2 linked regions of the Homo sapiens genome follow. The protein of the gene in region 1 purifies or fractionates together with the protein of each later gene. This does not show direct contact. Each region holds a gene or a part of one and is shown in the gene's direction. Other genes may lie near its edges.

Region 1 (3,500 bases):
GAAATGTGTTCCTTCTGGTTTTATAATGGTCACTATCTTAACTTTTATACTTTGTGGAAGACTTGAGTATTATTTCTTTCTTGAATATTTTGTTAACTTGCCTAGTAGCACTTAAGATGTTATTTGTTTTTTGTTGGTATTTGGGATGATGGGTTGTATTTGAAAAGCTGTTTTGTTTCTCTAGCTTGTTTTCCAAAACTATAATTTTTCTGAAAATCCCAAAGGCATCCCAGATTAGGCTCACTGCCAATATAAAATGTTTAAAATTTTTTTAAATTAAAAAACTTTTTACATGAACATACACACTTAATTTTTAAAATACCATGTTTTAAAGCAGATAACATTGGATAAATGGATGAAAGTAATATTTAAGAAAGTCTAGAATAAACAGTAATACCTTCATCAAGTATTATTTTATCAGTCTTTAGCAATTTATGTAATTCTGATTCATCTAATTGGGTGTTAGAGGAGTGCTCTGTAGCATTAAACATTAGATTAATTATTCATTTTAATTCTTTTTTAAGAAAGGGTAAACAATTAAATTTCTGATTCTATGATTAAAAAAACTTTTTTAAATTTTTTAGTGAGATAGATGGAACGTTTTCTTCCTCTGGTTGCCTAAATGGAAGTTTTTTAGCTGTTAGGTAAGTGGCAATTCTTTAATATGCTGAAATTTTCAAATTTATTGTCTTAAATAGTATATCAAATTAAAAAATGAAATAATTTTAAATTTTTATTCTATTTTTTTTTTTCTTTTCTGTTTTTTAGCAATGATGATCACTATAGAACAGGTACCAGATTTTCAGGGGTTGATATGAATGCTGCTAGGCTTTTATTCCACAAACTTATACAACCTGATCATCCGCAGATATCTCAGCAGGTCTGTTTTTAAAGTATTATGTTTACAGTATTATCTGTTGATTTTGTTTTCTTTTGTTTTATACGTTTATAGCCTAATTTACTTTGCAGTTTCACAGACTCTTACGATGTGCTTTTAAAATAAGATTTTATTTTAAAGCATTTGTAATTTAGCTGTCAAAGATCTATAAATCTTTTCAGATGTTTGAAGCAGACCCTGAATTACTTAACATTACCACGTTGCTTAAGTTTGTGTATGGTTATAGAGGTAGAGAGTTTAAATTGAGACTTGTACACGTGATTTTTTAAATTCTCCAAGTAATGCTTAGGCATTAATTTTCATTGTGCTCCAAAGTATATTCATTGTAAGACATTGTCTTTCTTTTTTCTTCTTCACCATTTCATATTTGCTGTAGTGCAAAATTTTCCTTTTCTTTCTTTTCTTCCTGCCTTCCTTTTTTTTTTTTTTCTTTGAAAGTGTATTCATTTTAAATGAAGTAGGTTTTACTTTTTGTCAAAATATAGGTGGCAGCTAGTTTGGAAAAGAATCTTATTCCTAAACTGACTAGCTCCTTACCTGATGTTGAAGCATTGAGGTTTTATCTTACTCTACCAGAATGTCCCCTGATGAGTGATTCCAACAATTTCACAACAATAGCAATTCCCTTTGGTACAGCTCTTGTGAACCTAGAAAAGGCACCACTGAAAGTACTTGGTAAGAATTCTAATATTTTTTCTTTTGAAACCTTTTCTCTTTAAATGAAAATGCTTCATAAGTTCTTTTGCCATTTGCAGTTCTGCTGCCCTGCTTATTTGACACTGTCTTAGGCAAAAATGAACCTGTTTTTCCTTTTCTTGCTTTTGTCTAGTCTTTTGATTCTAGTTGTTGGAGTTGTTGAAAGAAAAACATGTTAGATATAGAAGTTCAATTAAACATAACAGCAGAGACAGTATTAGGAAAGTTAAAAACTGTCACCCGTATTCCTTTCCCTCATCGCCTTTAGTATAATCTTGCTATTAAAGAAGTAAAGGAGGAGGAACAATTAAAACTGAACAAACATGGGCTTTAAATCTTCTTGGAACCCTGATATAAGCCCTTTATCTTGTGTTTCCTTCACTTGCTAATTTCATGATATTTGATTTTATTTTTCTGCCTATAGACTAGATTTTATTGCTCATCTGATCTTGCACTTCTATCTCTTACTGTTCTGGTTTTTTGGCATAAAGTTTTCTCACTTTAATTTTTCTAATTGTCTAGATTTTATCTCTATTTCCTGGCCTTTATACTTTTTTTGCTACATTTAACCCAGTGCTTTTCTTTCTAATGGTATTTGTTAGATATGTGGAGCTGAGATATATAGAAGTAATAATGTCAGTACAAGAACTTTAAGGCTGAGGGTAAATGGAGGAAGCAACAAGCAAGGGGTAGAATATGGGAATCTGAGGGAAAAAGAGTCAAGCAGGGACTGAAAAGAGTATTGCTTTCCTGTTGTCAGAAGTTTTTGTATTCTTTCTGCCTGCTTCATAGGATTGAAGTGTTTGTACTTAGTAACTACAAATAGTGAATGTGGGGAAGGACCCATATGTTACACTTTACATTGTTCAGCTTCTGTATTTGATCTTCAGGAGTACCTTGCATTTTAAAGGTAGTGGTTCACAATATTTCAACCATATATTAAATTGAAAGATAAAAGTTAGAAAGATCCTTTAGTATTAGAGCAATACAATTTAAAGGATGTTTTGTTTAAAAATTGAAACTGTAATTTTCAAAACATTTTTTAAAAACTGGTTTTAATATTAGGTATAGTGGTGAGTTTTTTATATAACTTAGGAAACCAAGAATATAAATTCAACAAGACTTTCACACTTTATTTTTGCTTTTGAGAGCTTTTCGGACAATATTGTTTAACTTGGTCGGGGGGAGGTTTATAAACCTTACAAATGTTACATAAGATATTGTGTTATATGCATCTTTCTGGGGTTTTCTCAGGTTTAACAACTACTGTTTCAGAAAAAAAGTCAGTATGATTTTGAAAATTGTGATTTTTTAAAAAATTCATTTTATTTGCATGTTCACTTTTTAATAACAGAAAACTGGTGGTCAGTACTTGAACCTCCACTATTCCTCAAGATAGTAGAACTTTTTAAGGAAGTTGTGGTACATCTTTTGAAACTCTACAAGATCGGTATTCCCCCTTCTGAAAGAAGAATTTTCAACAGTTTTCTTCATACTGCATTAAAGGTTTTAGAAATACTACATAGGGTATGTCCAATCATTCCTTTATTTTCCTCTTTCCCCATTCCTATTAACAGATTGATACTGTTCATTTTAACATTAATCTATTAAAGATTTAGATTGGCAAAAACAATGCATATTATAGAAATTTGGAAAAGTTATCTATACTTTCTCTTAAAAGAAGTAATAAACCTGTCCTTTGGAGCTCTGGTCTTACCTGACTTTGTTAGGCATGTATAGATAACTTATCCATAGTTGGGCAGAACAATAACATACTAATGAGTTAGAATTCTCCTTATATTTCCTTATGAAGAATATAATTTGTTAGTTTGCATTATATGGTTTTTGTTAGCTGTAAGTGGTTATCTTGTGAAAGAGATTGGGTCCTAGTTGTAATTATGAACAT
Region 2 (4,572 bases), on another chromosome or scaffold:
AATTATTGCTCAAGAAACCAAGAGGTTTAACATCGCAATATGGGAAGGTATGATATATTATCATTGTGTTTTTTTTAATTGTTGTTTTATTGATGACAAACCATAACCTTGGCCTGCTAGAAGAGTTCAATGGCACAAATTTAGTTTTTTTTGTTTTAGACGGAGTCTCGCTCTGTCTCCCAGGCTGGAGTGCAGTGGCACAATCTGGGCTCACTGCAAGCTCCACCTCCCAGGTTCACGCCATTCTCCTGCCTCAGCCTCCCGAGTAGCTGGGACTACAGGTGCCCATCACCACGCCCAGCTAATTTTTTTGTATTTTTAGTAGACACGGGGTTTCACCGTGTTAGCCAGGATGGTCTCGAACTCCTGACCTTGTGATCCGCCTGCCTCGGCCTCCCAAAGTGCTGGGATTACAGGTGTGAGCCACAGCACCCGGCCCACAAATTTAGTTTTTTAAAGTAAGTAACTTTGTCTTAAAAATGATTTGTAGTAATAGTCATTAAAAGATAAACTGAGGCACATTAAAATATTAAAGCATTTATTTGACCATTCAGTGATTCATGAATCTGGTAGCTCCTGATAAAGGAGCCAAGGAGAAGGCTTTTATAGGGTGAATTTGGAAGCAAAGGAAAGATATTTGATTGGTTAAAGTGGAGTACTAGACTTATTTGGGTCATCCCAGTGGAAAGTCCCCAGTTAGAAGTTAGCTGGCAGTTTCTGATTGATTAAGCTTAAATTTCCTTTTTATCATTTACACTGATTTGGGTTTCCTTTCCTTAGGTAGGAACTCATGGAGCTGAAGCTACCTCAGCCTACTGGCCTTCTAATTATTTCAACACAGAAATAGTACTTTACGGCACACTGGAGTTGCAATTCTATTCTGCAATTGGGTGGTTTCAGATTTGTTCTTCCTATAAATTTTGGTCAAATTAGTCATTGCATTTCTTTCTATAAGTCTGAGATTCAGATATTTGGTTGCTCTGAGAAAGTCTCTGTTGAGATAGCATTGCCATACTGGTCAGATTGAAAGTGACTTTGTATCCTTTCTATTAATGTTCTGATATGAAAGAGTGATGACTCGGATATAGTGTTAATGCATTAAAAAAGCACAGCCTGACAAATCGCTTCCTATAATACACAGAAAAATGTCTAGTCTTGAATTTATAACACAGGGAAAGGTAAAAAATTTAATTATGCTTCCTAATGTTGAACATGCACGTGACAAAGTAAATACTAAAAATCCATTCAGCTGGGCGTGGACAGGGAGAGGGAACGGTGCACATCAGAGGGTGCAGGCTACTCCAACGTTTCCGTTTCCTCAGTCTCGCGGGAAGCTCCGTTGTGGGCGCCCCGGCTGGTGGCTGAGCTCAGGCCTTCAGGCAGAGGGGAGGCGAGGGCGGGGCGGTCACGTGAGAGCACTGCCGCGGTGGGTTGTGGGGGTGCTGCGGCGCCGTTTGCTTTGCCAAACCGACAAAAGAGAGATGATGGCCAACGACGCCAAGCCCGACGTGAAGACCGTGCAGGTGCTGCGGGACACAGCCAACCGCCTGCGGATCCATTCCATCAGGGCCACGTGTGCCTCTGGTTCTGGCCAGCTCACGTCGTGCTGCAGTGCAGCGGAGGTCGTGTCTGTCCTCTTCTTCCACACGATGAAGTATAAACAGACAGACCCAGAACACCCGGACAACGACCGGTTCATCCTCTCCAGGGGACATGCTGCTCCTATCCTCTATGCTGCTTGGGTGGAGGTGGGTGACATCAGTGAATCTGACTTGCTGAACCTGAGGAAACTTCACAGCGACTTGGAGAGACACCCTACCCCCCGATTGCCGTTTGTTGACGTGGCAACAGGGTCCCTAGGTCAGGGATTAGGTACTGCATGTGGAATGGCTTATACTGGCAAGTACCTTGACAAGGCCAGCTACCGGGTGTTCTGCCTTATGGGAGATGGCGAATCCTCAGAAGGCTCTGTGTGGGAGGCTTTTGCTTTTGCCTCCCACTACAACTTGGACAATCTCGTGGCGGTCTTCGACGTGAACCGCTTGGGACAAAGTGGCCCTGCACCCCTTGAGCATGGCGCAGACATCTACCAGAATTGCTGTGAAGCCTTTGGATGGAATACTTACTTAGTGGATGGCCATGATGTGGAGGCCTTGTGCCAAGCATTTTGGCAAGCAAGTCAAGTGAAGAACAAGCCTACTGCTATAGTTGCCAAGACCTTCAAAGGTCGGGGTATTCCAAATATTGAGGATGCAGAAAATTGGCATGGAAAGCCAGTGCCAAAAGAAAGAGCAGATGCAATTGTCAAATTAATTGAGAGTCAGATACAGACCAATGAGAATCTCATACCAAAATCGCCTGTGGAAGACTCACCTCAAATAAGCATCACAGATATAAAAATGACCTCCCCACCTGCTTACAAAGTTGGTGACAAGATAGCTACTCAGAAAACATATGGTTTGGCTCTGGCTAAACTGGGCCGTGCAAATGAAAGAGTTATTGTTCTGAGTGGTGACACGATGAACTCCACCTTTTCTGAGATATTCAGGAAAGAACACCCTGAGCGTTTCATAGAGTGTATTATTGCTGAACAAAACATGGTAAGTGTGGCACTAGGCTGTGCTACACGTGGTCGAACCATTGCTTTTGCTGGTGCTTTTGCTGCCTTTTTTACTAGAGCATTCGATCAGCTCCGAATGGGAGCCATTTCTCAAGCCAATATCAACCTTATTGGTTCCCACTGTGGGGTATCCACTGGAGAAGATGGAGTCTCCCAGATGGCCCTGGAGGATCTAGCCATGTTCCGAAGCATTCCCAATTGTACTGTTTTCTATCCAAGTGATGCCATCTCGACAGAGCATGCTATTTATCTAGCCGCCAATACCAAGGGAATGTGCTTCATTCGAACCAGCCAACCAGAAACTGCAGTTATTTATACCCCACAAGAAAATTTTGAGATTGGCCAGGCCAAGGTGGTCCGCCACGGTGTCAATGATAAAGTCACAGTAATTGGAGCTGGAGTTACTCTCCATGAAGCCTTAGAAGCTGCTGACCATCTTTCTCAACAAGGTATTTCTGTCCGTGTCATCGACCCATTTACCATTAAACCCCTGGATGCCGCCACCATCATCTCCAGTGCAAAAGCCACAGGCGGCCGAGTTATCACAGTGGAGGATCACTACAGGGAAGGTGGCATTGGAGAAGCTGTTTGTGCAGCTGTCTCCAGGGAGCCTGATATCCTTGTTCATCAACTGGCAGTGTCAGGAGTGCCTCAACGTGGGAAAACTAGTGAATTGCTGGATATGTTTGGAATCAGTACCAGACACATTATAGCAGCCGTAACACTTACTTTAATGAAGTAAACTAGGCTTATTTCTAAAAAGTCAAGTCTATTGGCTTTGGCCCAAAAGCACTGGTATCTTTGTATTAAATTCATGTTTATTGTCACAAAACCATTATTTATACCTATACAGTTGTACTGTTTCTTTTAAAGCAAAGCCATTTAACATCTTTCTTCATTCCTAATTTGGAAATTAAAGTTTACCTTTCTGTTAATCTATGTATAAATGTTACTCTGAGTTATTAATGTGGATTTTAAAATTGTAAGCAATAGAATAGGAAATAAAACAACTACCTAATACAAATATTTCTGATAAGACTACAAATATCTGACTGAGCTGGGGATTAAAGTAGAGGTAACTGTATCTTAAATGAGTATGATTTCCTTGTAAGTTAAAAAAATTGAAATTTAATTGTAGACTTCAATAGTCCAAGTTTTGAAGGATGTTTGAGCTTTTGTATAATGCCATTTATACCTGCAGTTTTACAGATAATGTTTGACTGCAGTTGCCTTGGAAATTCCTCCAAAGTTTGCCTTCATCTCTCCTCTACAGTTTGGAGGTGATGGTGCAGCAGTGGAACATCTCTTGATGCACCACACTACTTGTGTTCTGTGAAGTGATGAAAGTATAACTGGTTCTAGTTTGCACACTACACACATAGTTTTGTGAAGCTTCAGAAATGTTTTTTCTTTTCCTTGTGGCCAAACCAGTTTGTTAATCTGATTATATTCATCTGCTAATGATACTAAAGTTAATGTAATAAAGCATTTAAAAATCAGATACTTCAGTCTGTGCTGTGTATGTGGGATTTGATTTCTTCCTGATGAAATCCTAAATAAGGAGAACTTGTGTCTAAATAAGAAACAGAGAGAGTCATGACCCCCAGAAGCAAACCTGGAAAAAGGTTGAAGCTGGAGATAAGTTACTAGAGAAGATTGTATGGACTAAAAAGCCATCCCTTAAGCAGACTCCTGACTTTTGGCTGTCAGTGTGTAAATATATGCTTGGAGTACAAGAAAGTACCAGTCAGGCAAATCATAGATGGACCCAAGGTTCCAAACTAAATTAAATTACTCTGTGTCTATGTCAGGTAATTATTTCCTTACTTTTATTACCCTCATTAAGTTCTTTGGAGGCATAACCAATTTGTCTCAGCAATCATTGTCTTAGGAGGTATAATAGAGCCAAAAAATATTAATACTAACCTGGGAATTAGAGAAACCAGGCTCTC

Evidence for each region.
Region 2: the proteins of HERC4 (region 1) and TKTL2 purify together in Homo sapiens (co-immunoprecipitation; one large-scale study listed by IntAct). This does not show direct contact.

Annotation. Positions count from the first base shown.
Region 1 is NC_000010.11:67,988,284-67,991,783, reverse strand, and holds part of HERC4 (probable E3 ubiquitin-protein ligase HERC4), read left to right. Parts: intron 1-584; coding exon 585-644; intron 645-768; coding exon 769-880; intron 881-1,383; coding exon 1,384-1,573; intron 1,574-2,948; coding exon 2,949-3,121; intron 3,122-3,500. UniProt on the Homo sapiens protein: Probable E3 ubiquitin-protein ligase involved in either protein trafficking or in the distribution of cellular structures. Required for spermatozoon maturation and fertility, and for the removal of the cytoplasmic droplet of the spermatozoon.
Region 2 is NC_000004.12:163,470,644-163,475,215, reverse strand, and holds TKTL2 (transketolase-like protein 2), read left to right. Parts: upstream 1-1,461; 5' UTR 1,462-1,481; coding exon 1,482-3,362; 3' UTR 3,363-4,121; downstream 4,122-4,572. UniProt on the Homo sapiens protein: Plays an essential role in total transketolase activity and cell proliferation in cancer cells; after transfection with anti-TKTL1 siRNA, total transketolase activity dramatically decreases and proliferation was significantly inhibited in cancer cells.